Regions from separate parts of the Homo sapiens genome. Here region 2 is linked to region 1. Evidence: fine-mapped expression QTL. Tissue or cell type: whole blood. Region 1 holds a variant in brackets; the other region holds the start of a gene. All regions are shown on one strand. Distances are between the middles of the regions.

Evidence for each region. PIP is the estimated chance that this variant, and not a neighbour inherited with it, causes the effect.
Region 2: ESYT1 starts here. The variant in region 1 is fine-mapped to the expression of ESYT1 in whole blood (TOPMed, PIP above 0.99).

Annotation. Positions count from the first base shown.
Region 1 is chr12:56,058,354-56,066,455 of GRCh38, reverse strand. No RefSeq gene overlaps it. Among named protein-coding and RNA genes, the nearest start is that of ERBB3, 18 kb to the left of the region's middle. The variant G/A (reference allele first, on the strand shown) is at 3,908.
Region 2 is chr12:56,124,638-56,132,739 of GRCh38, reverse strand. ESYT1 (extended synaptotagmin 1) reads right to left here and starts at 4,473. Exons shown (of 31, transcript NM_015292.3): 1 at 4,031-4,473; 2 at 2,117-2,158; 3 at 1,815-1,949; 4 at 1,627-1,700; 5 at 1,424-1,496; 6 at 1,174-1,263; 7 at 936-991; 8 at 408-531; 9 at 143-319; 10 at 1-21. The coding sequence starts at 4,420. ZC3H10 (zinc finger CCCH-type containing 10) reads right to left here. Exons shown (of 3, transcript NM_032786.3): 3 at 5,226-8,102. RefSeq lists enhancers at 3,425-3,484, 3,665-3,764, 4,085-4,334, 4,140-4,801, 6,241-6,500 and a silencer at 4,535-4,604.

The DNA.
Region 1 (8,102 bases):
AAAAAAAATATACAAAAAAATCAGCCAGGCATGGTGGCGGGCACCTTTAGTCCCAGCTACTCGGGAGGCTGAGGCAGGAGAATGGCATGAACCCGGGAGGCGGAGCTTGCAATGAGCCGAGATCGTGCCACTGCACTCCAGGCTGGGCGACAGAGTGAGACTCTGTCTCAAAAAAAATAAAAAGAAAAGAAAGAAAAAGAAAATAATCCTTTTTGGCTTGATGCTTCACCTTCCAGAGTCACTGGGGTGGCAGCATCACCCCCATGGCACTAGGTGAGGGCATACTGGAGTGTTGAAACCAGGGTTTCGTTTGAATACTCATAGTATTTTCCTATAGTCCCTTCTATTTCTGTATGGTTGGTAGTAATGTCTTCATTTTTATTTATTTATTTTTATTATTTTTTATTTTATTTTATTTTTGAGATGGATTTTCGCTGTTGTTGCCCAGGCTGGAGTGCAATGGTGTGATCATGGCTCACCGAAACCTCTGCCTCCCAGGTTCTAGCGATTCTCCTGCCTCAGCCTCCCCAGTAGCTGGAATCCGCCCGCCCTGGCCTCCCAAAGTGCTGGGATTACAGGCATGAGCCACCGCGCCTGGTCTATTTTTTATTTTTATAGTATAGAGACAAGGTCTCACTATGTTGTGCACGCTGAACTCCAACTCCTGAGCTCAAATGATCCTCCTGCCTTCACCTCTCATATTGTTAGGATTACAGGCGTGAGCCACCATGCCCAGGCTTCATTTTTATTTCTTTTTCTTTTTTTTTTTTTTTTGAGACGGAGTCGCACTCTGTTGCCAGGCTGGAGTGCAGTGGTGTAATCCGGGCCCACCGCAACCTCCACCTCCCAGGTTCAAGCGATTTTCCTGCCTCAGCCTCCTGAGTAGCTGAGATTACAGGCACGTGCCACCACACCCAGCTAATTTTCGTATTTTTAGTAGAGACGGGGTTTCACCATGTTGGCCAGGATGGTCTCAATCTCTTGACCTTGTGATCCACCCGCCTTGGCCTCCCAAAGTGCTGGGATTACAGGTGTGAGCCACCATGCCCAGCCTCATTTTTATTTCTGATTTTAATTATTTGTGTTCTTTTTTCTTAGCTAAGTGTTTGCTAATTTTATTGATTTTTTTTCAAATAACCAAACTTTTGGTTTTCTGTTTTCAATCTGTTGAAAGCCAGTGGGTCAAAGAAGAAATCACAAAGAATATTAGAAAATACTTTGAGATGAATGCAAATGAAATCACAACATATCAAAACTTACTGGATGCAGTAAAAGCAGTGCTCAGAGGAAAATTTGTAGCTGTAAATGCCAACTTTCCAAAAGAAGAAATAGGCCAGGTGCGGTGGCTTACGCCTGTAATCCCAGCACTTTGGGAGACCGAGGCGGGCGGATCACCTGAGGTCGGGAGTTCGAGACCAGCTTGACCAAAACGGAGAAACCCCATCTCTACTAAAAATACAAAATTAGCCAGGCCTGGTGGCACATGTCTGTAATCCCAGCTGCTTGGGAGGCTGAGACAGGAGAATCGCTTGAACCCGGGAGGCAGAGGTTGTGGTGAGCCGAGATCACGCCATTGCACACCAGACTTGGTAACAAGAGGGAAACTCTGTCTCAAAAAACAAACAACAACAACAAAAAGTTAGCCAGGCTTGGTGGCACATGTCTGTAATCCCAGCTACTCGGGAGGTTGAGGCAGGAGAATAGCTTCAACCTGGGAGGCGGAGCTTGTGGTGAGCTGAGATCATGCCATTGCACTCCAGCCTGGGCAACAAGAGCGAAACTCCGTCTCAATAATAATAATAATAATAATAATAATAATAATAATAATAAATAAAACAAATGAAATATCTCAAATCAGTAATCCAACTTTATATCTCAAACTAGAAAAAGACGAGCAAACTAAACTCAAAAGTGGTAGAAGGAAGGAAATAATAAAGACCAAAGCAGAGATAAAAGAAATAGAAGAAAAACAAAAGAGAGTAATGAGAGAATACCACCATCCGCCTGTTTCCTCAGCATACTTCTTGTGCCATTTTTTTTTTTTTTTGGCGTGATGTCGGCTCACCGCAACCTCCACCTCCCAGGTTCAAGAGATTCTCCTGCCTCGGCCTCCTGAGCAGCTGGGATTACAGGCGCGCGCCATCACACCCTAATTTTTGTGTTTTTAGTAGAGACGGGGTTTCTCCAAGTTAGGCAGATCTCAAACTTCCGACCTCAGGTGATCCGCCCGCCTCGGCCTCCCAAAGTGCTGGGATTACAGGCGTGAGCCACCGTGCCCGGCCTATATTTTTTAATTTTTGTAAAATCACAGCTTGCTGCAGCCTAGACCTCCCGGACTGAAGTGATCCTCCCATCTCAGCCTTCCAAGTAGCTGCGACAAACAGGCTGAATTTTTTATTTTTTGTAAAGATGGGGGTCTCACTTTTTTTCCCAGGCTGGTCTTGAACTCCTGGCCTCAGGTGATCCATCCGTCTGGGCCTCCCAAAGTGCTGGGATTACAGGTGTGAGCCACCCCAACCAGCCAACCATTTGTCCACTTCTGATGAGTTTATAGATTTAGGCTTTGAGCATCCGGAGTTGTGACCATCACAAAAAGAGATACCGGATATTATGTGTCTCCTGATGGAAGAACTCACTGGCTGGGCGCAGTGATTCACGTTCGTAATCCCAGCCCTTTGGGAGGCCGAGGTGGGCGGATCACGAGGTCAGGAGTTCGAGACCAGCCTGGCCAACATGGTGAAACCTCATCTCTACTAAAAATACAAAAAATAGCCAGGCATGGTGGCGGGCGCCTGTAATCCCAGCTACTCAGGAGGCTGAGGCAGGAGAATGACTTGAGCCCAGGAGGTGGATATCGCAGTGAGCCGAGATCGTGCCATTGCACTCTAGCCTGGGTGACAGAGCAAGACTCCATCTCAAAAAACAAAACAAAACAAACAAACAAAAAAACTCGCCACTGTCTATGAAGTAGTCTTACCAAAATAATCAAATCTGAATTTGATCAAACCTTTCAATCCAATACCAATTTACAAAAAATCCATAGGACAGAGGAAAGATGCCACATGATCAGCAAAATCCAGAATGCAGGAAATTCTATAGGACAACAATCCATTTTTTTTTTCTTTTTTTCTTCTTTTTCACCTGGAACAGGGAAGGAGGTACAATCCAGTTTTTTCAACAAATAATTTGCAAGAGAGAAAAAAATATACCTCAGATGATTTCTTGTCTATTTCCCCTGAATAGCTCCAGGACAGGAAATGCCTGAGACAGTCATTGCAAGACTGCTGCTACAAGAATAAGAAATATTTTCATTATCTAAAAGCATATTAAATTCTTTTTAAAGAATAAAAAAATGTTTATATATGCTTAAAATGTATCTTGAAGGATACACAAGAAACTGGCTCTAGGAAGAGGAACTGAATGCAAGACTTTACTATACATTCTTTTGTACTTTTTATATTTTTTTCATGTTTTATGTGATCAAAAATAAAATAATTGGAAAGGAAAGAAGGAAGAAGGAAGAAAAATTTTAGACCAGTTGTGTTTCTCTATAACTTCTACCAAGCAAGTCTAATTCTAACCTCTGGTTAATCCCTCTTGTATATAACAATCCTTCAGATCTTTGAAAATGTCTCTCTTTTCCCCTTTAGTTTTCTTTTTAATTTAATTTAATTTTGTTTTATTTTATTTTATTTTGAGACAAGGTCTTGCTCTGTCACCTAGGCTGGGGTACAGTGGCACAATCATAGCTCACTGCAGCCTCAACCTCCTAGGCCCAAGTGATCCTCCCACTTCAGCTTCTCGAGTAGGTGGGACTACGGGTGTGCACCACCATGCTTGGCTAATTTTTAGGTGTTTTGTAGAGATGGGGTTTCTCTATGTTGCCAAGGCTGTTCTCAGACTCTTG[G/A]GCTCAAGAGGATCTGCCTGCCTTGGCCTCCCAAAGTAGTGGTATTACAGGTGTAAGCCACTGTGCCCAGCCTTTAAAATATTTTTATTTTTAATTTTTAGAGACGGGGTCTTGCTATGTTGCCCAAGCTGACCTCGAACTCCTGGACTCAAGGGATCCCCCTCCCTCTGCTTCAGCCTCCTGGGTAGCTGGGACTACAGGTGCATGACACCATGTGTGGCTCCCCTTACATTTCTTTTCTCCAACTAAACATCTCTGTGTCCTCTCATTGTTCTTCGAGTGACTCAGTTAATAATCCCCTCCTTGCCGGGCACAGTGGCTCACGCCTGTAGTCCCAGCTACTTGGGAGGCCGATGTGGGAAGATCACCTGAGCTTGGGAATTCAAGGCTGCAGTGAGTCAAGATCACACCACTGCACTCCAGCCTGGGCAGCTAAGCGAGACTCCATCTAAAGAAAACAAAACAAAACAAAACAACTTAGTAGGACATGGGCTGGATGCAGTGGCTCACACCTATAATCCTAGTACATTGGGAGGCCAAGGAGGGCAGATCACTTGAGGTCAGGAGTTTGAAACCAGCCTGGCCAATATGGCGAAATTCCATCTCTCAAAAAATACAAAAATTAGCCAGGCGTGATGTTGCACACCTGTAATCCCAGCTACTCAAGAGGCTGAGGCAGGAGAATTGCTTCAACCTGGGAGGCGAAAGCTGCAGTGAGCCTGGGAGACAGAATGAGACACTGTCTTAAAAAAAAAAACAAAAATCCCAAAAACTTAGTAGGACATGGACAATAAAGACAAAGAAAGAGGAGGTTTGGACAAAAGTGGGGTAGAGGTAGAGAGCCTCAGAGAGCAAGACATCATGTTTTTGAACACTACCAGAAAACGACAGACAGAAGAAGGAGCTCAGTCTACATAGGAAAGCCATCTGAAGAAATCTTTCAGAAAAATTAAATTTACATAAATGTGAGCAACAGAAGAGTATCGTGTTAAATTCCACACAAAGTTACTATAAGGAAAAAGAGAATTGAGGCCGGGCGCAGTGGCTCACGCCTGTAATCCCAGCACTTTGGGAAGCTGAAGTGGGCGGATCACCTGAGGTCGTCAGGAGTTCGAGACCAACCTGGCCAATATGGTGAAACCTCGTCTTTACTAAAAATACAAAAATTAGCCAGGCATGGTGGCAGGCGCCTGTAATCCCAGCTACTCGGGAGGCTGAGGCAGGAGAATGGCTTGAACCTGGGAGACGGAGGTTGCAGTGAGCTGAGATCGTGCTATTACACTCCAGCCTGGGGACAAGAGTGAGACTTAGTCTCAAAAAAAAGTTAAAAAAAAAGAAAAGAGAATTGAGAATAGGTAGGTTAAAAAAAAAAAAGAAAAAGAAAACAGATAATGAGGACAGAAAAAGATTCATGCCAGAGAGATGCTCCCAAAACAGACGAAAATCATAACATTTTATTTTAAAATGAGCTAAAAGACATTAAGAAGGTGATATAAAGTCGGGTGCTATGGCTCATGCCTGTAATCCCAGCACTTTGGGAGTCTGAGGCAGGCGAATTACAGCAGTTTGAGACCAGCCTGGCCAACATGGCAAAACCCCATCTCTACTAAAAATACAAAAATTAGCCAGGCATGGCGGCGTGCACCTGTAGTCCCAGCTACTCGGGAGGCTGAGGCAGGAGAATCACTTGAACCTGGGAGGTGGAGGTTGCAGTGAGTTGAGACGATGCCACTGCACTCCAGCATTTCAGAGCGAGACTCCATCTCAAAAAAAAAAAAAAGAGAGAGACATGAAAGAAGCTAGGCACTGTGGCTTGCACCTGTACTCCAGCCAGGGCAATAGAGTGAGACCTCATCTCTAAAATAAATAAATAAATGAAGAAATAAATAATTTTTTTTGAGACAGTCTCTGTTGCCCAGGCTGAAGTGCTGTGGTGCAATCTTGGCTCACTGCAACCTCCACCTCCCAGATTCAAGCGATTCTCATGCCTCAGCCTCCCGAGTAGCTGGGATTACAGGCATGCACCACCACACCTGGCTAATTTATGCATTATTGGTAGAGATGGGGTTTCGCCATGTTGGCCAGGCTGATCTTGAACTCCTGACCTCAAGTGATCCAAAGTGATTAAGTGATCTCATTAGTCCAAAATGACAAATATTGTAATTTGAAAAAGATTGCAGGCAACTGCCACCATACCTGGCTAGTATTTGTGGGTTTTTGTGTTTTTTTTTTTTGGTAGAGATGGGGTTTCACCACATTGGCCAGGCTGGTCTCAAACTCCTGATGTCAAAGTGATTCGCCTGCCTTGGCCTCCCAAAGTGCTGGGATTATAGGCATGCGCCACCGCACCTAGCTGACATATTTTAAATATTTAAGGAATAACAAGCCAGGCGTGGTGACTCAACGCCTTGTAATCCCAGCATTTTGGGAGGCTGAGGTGGGCGGATCGCCTGAGGTCAGGAGTTGGAGACCAGCTTGGCCAACATGGTGAAATCCCATCTCTACTAAAAATATATATATATATGAAATAGCCAGGCATGGTGGCGTGTGCCTGTAATCCCAGCTACTTGGGTGGCTGAGGCAGGAGAATCGCTTGAACCCGGGAAGCGGAGCTTGCAGTGAGCCAAGATTGCACCACTGCACTCCAGCCTGGGCGACAGAGCGGGACTCCATCTCAAAACATAATAATAATAAATAAATAAATAAAAAGGAAGAACAGGTGAGCCAAAGCAAAGCTAATCTTCAACGATAATGGGCACAGACAAATTGTTATCAATATGTAGGGACTCAGGGATTATTTTTCCCACGACCCCTTCCTGAGAAATCCACTAGAGAGTGCACTTCAGACAACTAGAGAGATGTCAACAGAAGGGCTGAGAGTCAGTACTGTATATTAGTTACTCATGGAAATGAGACTAATGAAGGTAAAAGAGAGAGTATAGTATGTAATGGCCATATGATCTGATAATGTAGACATTATAACCATAAAAAATAAGGAGAAAGGAAATAGCATTTACAAAAAAAGTTTAAATATGTTTTTAGTAATCATAATGACGAAGGTAGTACTACTAGTTATTCTGAGACTGTTTAATGTATTGTGTAGGATAAAACAAATAAGGAATTATGGAATGTTCTAATTCTCCCATTTCTGTGTCCGTAAGAACCATGACTCTTGATGGAAGAAAGAAAACACAGACTTTTTGTAGTTTTGTAGTCCCAAATTTGACAAACCCAATAGTAATGAGCATCTTCAATAGTAATGAGCATCCTGGTGCAGAGATGGTAGTCTCTAATGACCTTTTTTTTTCTTTTACAGTTGAGTCTCACTCTGTTGTTCAGGCAGGAGTGCAGTGACCCAATCATAGCTTACTGCAGCAATCCTCCTGCCTCATCCTCCCAAGTAGCTGGAACTATGGGTACATGCCACAGCACCCTACCAAGTTTTTTTTCACTTTTTATTTTTTTGAGATAGAGTTTCACTATTGTCCCCCAGGCTGGAGAGCAACAGCATCATCTCAGCTCACCGTAACCTCTGCCTCCCAGGTTCAAGTGATTCTCCTGCCTCGGCCTCCCGAGTAGCTGGGATTACAGGCACCCGTCACCATGCCCAGATAATTTTTGTATTTTTAGTAGAGATGGGGTTTCACCATGTTGGCTAGGTTGATCTCGAACTCCTGACCTCAGGTGATCCACCCTCCTCAGCCTCCCAAATTGCTGGGATTACAGGTGTGAGCCACCACACCCAGCCCCCCAGCCAAGTTTTTTATTTTTGTGGAGACCATTGGGCACTATTTTTCCCCAGTCTGGTCTCAAACTCCTGGACTCAAGTGATCATCTTGCCTCAGTCTTCCAAGTCACAGGGATTACAGGTGTGAGCCACTATGCCCAACTCTAATTATCATTTCTCATTAAAGAAACCAAGATTCTTGAAGAAATATGTGGAGACTGCTGGATGCTGGGGAAATGGTAAGATCAATGGATTGCAGTGAACGTGAAGGACACAAATTGTTGAGGTGGCATGGTTGAGTAAGTGAGCTAAAAGGAGATTATTGGAGATTTGGGGTTGAAATTTCTAAGATGGTACAGTTTTTGGTGATGCTAAGGTCTAAGTTGAGGCCAAGGCAGGCGGATCATCTAAGGTCAGGAGTTCAAGACCAGCCTGGCCAAGATGGTGAACCCTGTCTCTACTAAAAAT
Region 2 (8,102 bases), 66 kb before region 1:
TGGGACCTCGTGTACCATCACCTGGGGAACACAGAAGGCTGAGTGTCTCATGGGGCTGCAGCTGTGAGGATCATCCAATCAGCATCTTCTCTCACAACCTCCTGGGGCTTCCCCATTTCACAGAGCTGCTCAACTCTCCCACCTCATAAGTCTCTCCCCACTGTGGGTTGAGTTCTTCATCAATGACACGACTGCAGAATGTCTGGGTACCCAAACGCACAAGTGCATATGGGTCTGACTTGCCCTCAATCAGGCCCTTCACATATTTGTCCTTGGAACTCAGCCCTCGAGCAGCCAGCAGGTGAATTCGAATAATGCCCTGGAGGAAGGAATCAGATGGTGAGAAACTAAGGACCCAGCAAGGGGTTCCTGAGAGAAGGATCTATCTAGTGGGGGAAAGGCCATACCCTGGGCAGAGGGGAACGCAACTGAGCCACATCTTGAAGGTCAGGCACAAGGGGCACCAGTAATCGGTTGGGCAACACGAGGAAGGCAGCAATGGAGTCCATGATCATGGTGTCAGAGAGTGAGCTGAATGGGGGAGTAGAAAGGAGTGGGTATGGCCTCAACTTCCAATTTTCTCCTAACCCCAACTATGTTTCCCACACCCAAGAGAGACCTAAAGCTGTAAGAAAGTCCTTTTGTGAAAATCCTTTGTGCTACTCTTCTACCCTAATTCCCCACCTACTGCTCTCTCCCTTCTTCACTGCCATCCCCATTGCCTTTTGCAGTCTTCAGCCCTCTGCATTCCCTTCCTGCTCCCCCAACCCAAAGAAAAATCACAGTATCAAACTTTGCAGGGGTATTTGTCTTTGCTCCCCAAATGAAGTTGAGGCTCCTAGAGGACACAAGCAGCATCTTTGACTGCTCTGTGTCCCTTAAACCCCCAACCCAGCGCTGGAACACTCAGCAGGTGCTCAGTAAGTCCTTGATACCTAAGTCCTGGGATATCCAGCAGGTTGGTCATCCCTGTCCAGTTGATGTCTAGGGTCTGGAGGGAAAGAGCAGGGGTCAGGACAGATCCTATGGGGTGTGGTCATACCCATCAAACAGTTGCCAGAACCCCTCGGCCTTCTTGTCAGTTCCCTTCTCATTCCCCTTCACTGGCTGCCCTCATCCTCCCAGTCCTCTGTTTCTCCTGCTTCCCCATACCCCTTCATTGTTTTCCCTTACCGGGCGTCGGATGAAGAACATTGACACAGCCCCCACGAAGGGAAGGTCCCCAATGAGTGGCTCCAGTATCACCCGCAAAACGCCATGTAGCTGAGGCAAGAAGAGAAAATCAAAGCCTTTCCCCAGAAAAGTCCCTCTTCTGTCCTCCCAGACTTTCTCAGCCTTGGTCTTTCCAACCTCACACTTCCCCATATCCCATGAAACGCAGGACAAACATTCCCTATTATGTGGCCCCTGACATCTGGCCTACCTGCATGCCCTTGACTCCTGCTTTGCAAAAATATTTCTTCACTTCCACATCAATCTGCACATCACCTACATAGCTGGGGATTGGTGAAGAAGAGAACCAAGAGAGTTAGTCCTTGGCTGAAGTTGCGGGGAGGGGGAGTGAAGTAGCCTGGACTGAACAGGACACATTGAAGGGGAAGCAGTAAGAGTGGTGAGTGGTATTACCTGATGTTCAAGTCCAGCAGGATCTGCTCTTTTCTCTGACCTGGGTGAACCTTGACTCCAATGATGCGCAATGGCTAGGGAGAGAGAAATTCCTGAGAGAGGGCAGGGATAGGGAGAAGTACCTGAGTCTACTCCGGGCCACTCACCCTCCCTAGCCTACCTCCTCACTTTCCCTCCTCCACACATACCTTTTCACCCAGTTCCACTCGTGTAAATGTAAATGTTTGCAGATGGGGGTTAGATCCCCTAACAGCCGGAGCCACAGTTTCAGCCAGAAGCTTCTCCATATACTGGCCCAGGAAGGGCCAGACCTGGGCCACAATCTGGGAGGAAAGAGAGATGGTCAGAGGAGAGTCCAGTCTTCCCTCTCAAGGCAAGTTCCTTCAGAATCCTCCCCACGGAGAGCACTGAGGGTTGAGGATGGGTCTGGCAAGAAGAAACAAATTCCCATTCTCCCCTCATGAAGACTAAAAATCAAATCAATCCTCACCTTATTGAGCCATTCAGCCTTTTCCACGTCTGGGAAGCTGACCTGGAGGTGGGGAAGGCAGAGACAGTGACGTGCAGCACACCCTCGCCTCTGGTTTCCTACTAAGATGCTGGTGGTGTGCCACAGAGGAGAGGGAGTGTGTGTGACTCCTCACACTCAGGGTGGGCGAGGGGCGAGGATGCCCCAAAGGTTCATTCCTCACAGAGTTTGGGGGCTGATGTCTCTCTAATAAGGGGAGCTGACAAGGTAGAGGTCACGCTGTTGCCCTGTGGATAGCTCAGGGACGTGGTGAAATGACAGCTGCTGAGAGAGAGAGGAGCGGGAGGAGGAGAAGGGCGCATTCTTTCTGGAGGGGGAGGTCCAGTCAAATTGGAGTTTGAGGGAATCCTGGGATTTAAAAAGTCCTGGTTCCAGGCTGGCCGCGGTGGCTCGCATCTGTAATCCCAGCACTTTGGGAGGCCGAGGCCGGCGGATCACGAGGTCAGGAGTTCGACACCAGCCTGACCAGCATGGTGAAACCCTGTCTCTACTAAAAATACAAAATTAGCCGGGCGTGGTGGCGCGTGACTGTAATCCCAGCTACCCAGGAGGCTGAGGCAGGAGAATCGCTTGAAGAGGCAGAGGTTGCAGTGTGCCAAGTTCGGGCCACTGCACTCCAGCTTGGCAACAGAGCGAGACTCCGTCTCAAAAAAGAAAAAAAAAAAAGTCCCCTTTTCCAGCCTTCTCAACTCCCCTCAGACGGGGCTTCTAGAGCAGGAAGGTGAAGAGGGAAGCAAGTCCTTCCTTGAGTCAGGGAGGGGCCAGAAGACCTAATTAGGCCTGGCTTTGTGGGTTTTTTGGGGTGTGTGTGTGTGTTTTCCTCTATCTTTCTCTGTGTGACTCCTTTTAAGGGAAAGGACACCTGCGCTTTGTATTGGGGGTAGGAAGATTGGTTTCCATGATGATGAGGAGGAGACAAACACTTGCTGCCTAGGCTACAGGTCCCCTAGAGCCATTTGGCCCTCTTTCTCCTCCCCTTTCCAGTCCAGGGCCTGGGAAGCTTGGCTGTGTCTGTCTAGTGTCAATTTTGATTCCTCTCTGCTGCCATTCTCCCCCTAGACTGGCACCTCTGCTGGGAGGGGCCGGGTAACCGGCTTCGCCTCTGCAAGACTAGAGAGAAGGCATCCGCCTCAGCACAGGAGACGCGGCCGCCGCAGAAATAAGGGTCTCTGCCCCAACGGAACAAGCGCAGCCCACAGTCCGGAAAAGGGTGTGGCCGGCCGAGGAGTGCGGGGGAGTGTGCGCCGCGGGCACTGCAGCAGCCGCACCACCTCCTCCCGTAGCCCTCCCTCCGTCCAGCAGCCGCCTCTGCCGCGCTGCAGTCTGGCGGCTGGAGGCTTGAAGGTGGCTGCCCGAGGGTCGTCCAGGGGCCGGGGCTGGGTCCTAGCGGGTACCCGGGGATAAAAGCGAGAAAAGAGAGAACCGTATGGCTTTAAGTAGGTAAAAAGTCTCGAGGAGGATGGGAAAGACTAGGGAAACCTTTGAGAGGTAACGGGACCAGGATTTCCAGGAGCAGCAAAGCCGCGAGTGGCACCAAAAGCAAGAGGGACGTTCAAGATGGCTTGGCTAGGAGGGAGAGCTTCGGCTGAGACGGGGTCCCCAGATGTTATTACTGCTGTTGCCCAAGTAGAGGAAGAAGTCCTGATTCTGTGGAAGGATCCAGTCTGGGCATGCGAAAGGGTGGGTGGGGAGAGTGAGCAGTCGGTTCCAAGAGTGGCGCGTCCAGCAGGCAGGCGGCTAGCGGGGAGAGAGGGGAAAGTCTGGGGCCCACTGTCCCAAGGCAGGGAGCTGACTCTAGGCATAAGGAGGAAAAGCCCCAGATGGAAGGGGTGGAAGGGGGCTATGCTGCACAGAGGACCGAGGGTGGTCGCTCACCCAGGCAGGTAGCTCTCGATGACTCATATAGAGAGTTTTCGCAGTGAGCTGCTCCTCGTCGTCCAGTAGCTGCCTCGCTGCTCGAAGGCTCCGTTCTTTCTCGTCGCGGACCCGGCGCCAGCCCAGGTAGAGGGCGAGGCCGAAGAGCACGAAACCCACGCTGAGTCCCACTGCCCCGGCCAAATACACAGGTATCAGCACCAGCAACCGCCTCCCGAATGAAGTCAGCACCGCCAGGGCCTCACCCGCCGCGCCAGGGCCAGCAGGTTGGCCCCCAGAACCTGGGTCTGGCTTTGCGTGAGCAGCGGGGGGCTGGTCAGTGGGGTCGGAGGGAGCAGAGGGCTGGTCCATGGGGCTGGGGCTGGGGCCCTCTCCTGGAGATCGCTCCATTGTGCCACCTCTGGGAGGATCCGCCCGACCCAGGGACTGGCTGGAGGTTGCCTAGTCTTGCGATCAGCTCCCCCAGGCAAAACGTGATCCCCGGGATGGAGGAGGGGACTTCAAGCCACGCCCCTCCTTTCTGGCGATTTGGGTTGGTCCGCGCTGCACAGACCAAGGTGGAGTTAAAAGGTTGAAACTCCACCCCTCTTCCGCGGGGAACGGACCGGGTTTCGGATAGGTAGGGCCTCCCTGATTGGGCCCGAAGGCCAAGATGGGAGGTCTGAGATGGCGGGAAAAGGAAGAAAGGGGCTCAGGGGCGGCATTCGATTGGTAATAAAGAGGAGGAGGCGTGGCGCACCATTTCAGGAGAGGCGGGACCAAGAGCTCCCCCACGTGGGATTGGAGTGCCTGTGGTATGACGTCATGCAGAGCTGCACCGCCAATTTCTTGGTTTTGGAGAAAGCCCAAGTTGCGAAGTTGAGGGGTTGTGGAGCTTCAGGATTTCCCTCTACTCATTCGGTTTGGCAGGATTTGGTCTGGGATATATATATATGTTCTTTTGCCGACTTTCTCTAGTTTTCATACTCTAAGCACATTCCTTATCCTTCAACTTTTTCCTGCCTGCCCTTACAAAAGGAAAGGATACGATCGTATTTGGAATGAAAGTGTTTGAAAACTAACCCCGTCTATCCCGTCCCTAATCCCCTACCTTCTTTGTGTGGTGTAACGACTGACCCTGGAGAAAACTGGAGAGTCAGAGAATTACAGAGTTGAGATAATCCAGCCTTCAGGGAAAGGGGGAAAAAAAGCAGAGTGAATAGAAAGTGAGGCTTTATTTCTTTTTGGAAATTTCCAAGAGTTAGTAAGTCATCTCTATCTTAGAGGATGGATGTAAGACTAGTTGGCTCCAAAAGGGAGGGAGGCAGCGCAAATTATTACATTTTCCAATAATTTTCTGACCCTGAAGAACTTCTAGGACACTAAAATGAGGGATCAAGAGTAAGGGAAAGACAATTCCTTTTCACATTTGCCTGAGTTAGAAGGAAGGTTTGCCATACAGTCAGGTGCAGAACTAGTGCAGTCCCACAGTGTACGGTGTAGGTTTAGGAAGGAAAAAGTGCAGGGTACACCGATGACTATTGTTACTAGTTAACTGGCGTTAGAGGTGGAGTGTTGTCCTAGGATCTAGGAACTAGACTAATTGGAAGTTGATGAGGGAAGTGTTGGTCATAAGATGATTACCTTTTAATGCAGTATATATGGGGCATATTATGTAAATCTGTCAGATGCAGCAGAAGAACTGGGGTTGATCACTGGGAAGAAACTAGCCATTTCTTAGAGGAAGTGTCTTACAGGATGAGGCCTGCAGCTGATAAATTTTATCTGGTTCTGCAGGGCATAGATTTCATCAGCCTGTGTTTACCAAAGCTGCTTAAAACCTGTCCCTGCTCAGCCTCTATCACTTAAATTTTTTCACTTCCTTTTCTCTACTTCCCTAGGGCTAGCAGTATCTTGACTGCTTCATTCAGTTTGCAGAACTATTTAAGAAACAATATTCTGTCTCCTATATCCTCCATATTCCCAGAGGTAAGCAGGTAGAAAAGGGAAACAAGGAAATTGGAGGAATTATGAGTGACCTGCTCACCAACTGATAAAGCAGAACTACAGAAGGAACATGGATGAACCTTAGAGAGAAACCTCTCTATAAACTGAAATTTGCCAAGCACTGGAGTAGGCAAGGAGGTTCCTGAGAATGGGGGAATGGAGAGGGTGACCTATGGAGGTTCTTTTCCAAACTTCTCCCTTCCTCACCTCATCCAGATCATCAGAAATTATATAGGGGATAAAACTTCATCCTCAGGAAGTTCTTGTCCCAGCTGGGGCCCAGGAGCCACAGGATCAGCAGCTGCAATGCAGTTACCAACACAAGTAAACAGGGTGGGTCCCCGCCCACTGACAATTCTGCTGCCCAGGTGCCACCTGGTGGTGATAAGCAGTAAGTGGACAACAGGAAGGGATGCCCATTTGTTAGAGGAAGTGTCTTACAGGATGAGGCCTACAGGAGGAGAGAGAGTAAACTTCCTGGACTTGCAATCTGCATTTATATGTAAACCATAATCACCTCCAAGAGGCAGAGGGTGAGATACGGTACTCTGATCTCAGCTCACAAAGATGGGAAGGGCAACAAGATTTGAGGAAACTCCTTCTGTATTCTTTATTCCTCAAAAGTTACTGCCAAGCCAGTCGCGGTGGCTCATGCCTGTAATCCCAGCACTTTGGAAGGCCGAGGCAGTTGGATCACCTGAGGTCAGGAGTTCAAGACCAGCCTGGCCAACATGGCGAAACCCCGTCTCTACTAAAAATACAAAAATTAGCCGAGCATGGTGGCATGTACCTGTAATCCCAGTTACTCTACTTGGGAGGCTGAGGCAGGAGAATCACTTGAACCCGAGAGGCGGAGGCTGCAGTGGGCCGAGATCACGCCACTACACTCCAGCCTGGGCAACAGAGTGATACTCCGTCTCAAAAAAAAAAAAAAAAAATTACTGCCAAGTAGTGATCGCTTTGTTGGATGGCTATATCATTAGAACTTTCTTTTGTCGTCTGGAGTGAGACTGCCTGAATAGATTCCTGGCCCCATTCCTTACTTGCAGAACCCTGGGCAGGTTACTTTTTAAGCCTGCTTTCTCCTCTGTAAAATGGGTACAATAATATTACCCATTGTGTCAATGAGATGTTGCATGTAAAGTGCCTAGCACAGAGCCTTGGCTTATATTAAGCAGTCAACAAATGCTAGCCGGCTGGGTGCGGTGGCTCAACGCCTGTAATCCCAGCACTTTGGGAGGCCGAGGTGGGCGGATCACGAGGTCAGGATATGGAGACCGTCCTGGCTAACACGGTGAAACCCCGTCTCTACTAAAAATACAAAAAGAAAATTAGCTGGGCACCTATAGTCCCAGCTACTCTGGAGGCTGAGGCAGCAGAATGGCGTAAACCCTGGAGGCAGAGTTTGCAGTGAGCAGAGATCGTGCCACTGCACTGAAGCCTGGGCCACACAGCTAGACTCCGTCTCAAAAAAAAAAAAAAAAAAAAAGTTAGCCATTATTCTAGAAATCCCTTTTTACTTCCTGTGTAGCAAACAGGATCTTCCTCCACTGGGCAGCCCTTCAAATATTTGAAGACTTCTATTTGAAGCTTTCTCTTGCCAGCCTTTTTTTTCTAGCAACACACTGGTTTGTCAATGGCCCTCTTTAAAAATTACATTTAGAACAACACACTACTAAGTGGTTACACTTAGGCAGAACATAGAACTGCTGTATTTGTAATCTATTACCAAGGTTCTACTACCCTTATGGAGCTCCTAGAAAGATGCCTAGAACATAGCAGGCTCTTAATAAATATTTATAAATGGACATCTTGAGGGCTAAGATTCTATTTTTTTGCAGCCAACTGGAAGTCCCAGTTTGTTCTCATGTGAATTATTGCTAATATAAATCTCTAACATTGTTCCTCAAACTAGTTCAAGATCTAAGCAATTTTTTAGTGTGAGAGTGCTCCAGTGTTTTAGTCAATTCAAGTTACAGACACTTTGAATATTATTTAGCTCTTCCTGTGTTACTGTTGATAAATGGGTTTTTTACATGTTTACCCGAGTTGGGTTTTTTCTTTTTACAATAAAACATAGCCCTTG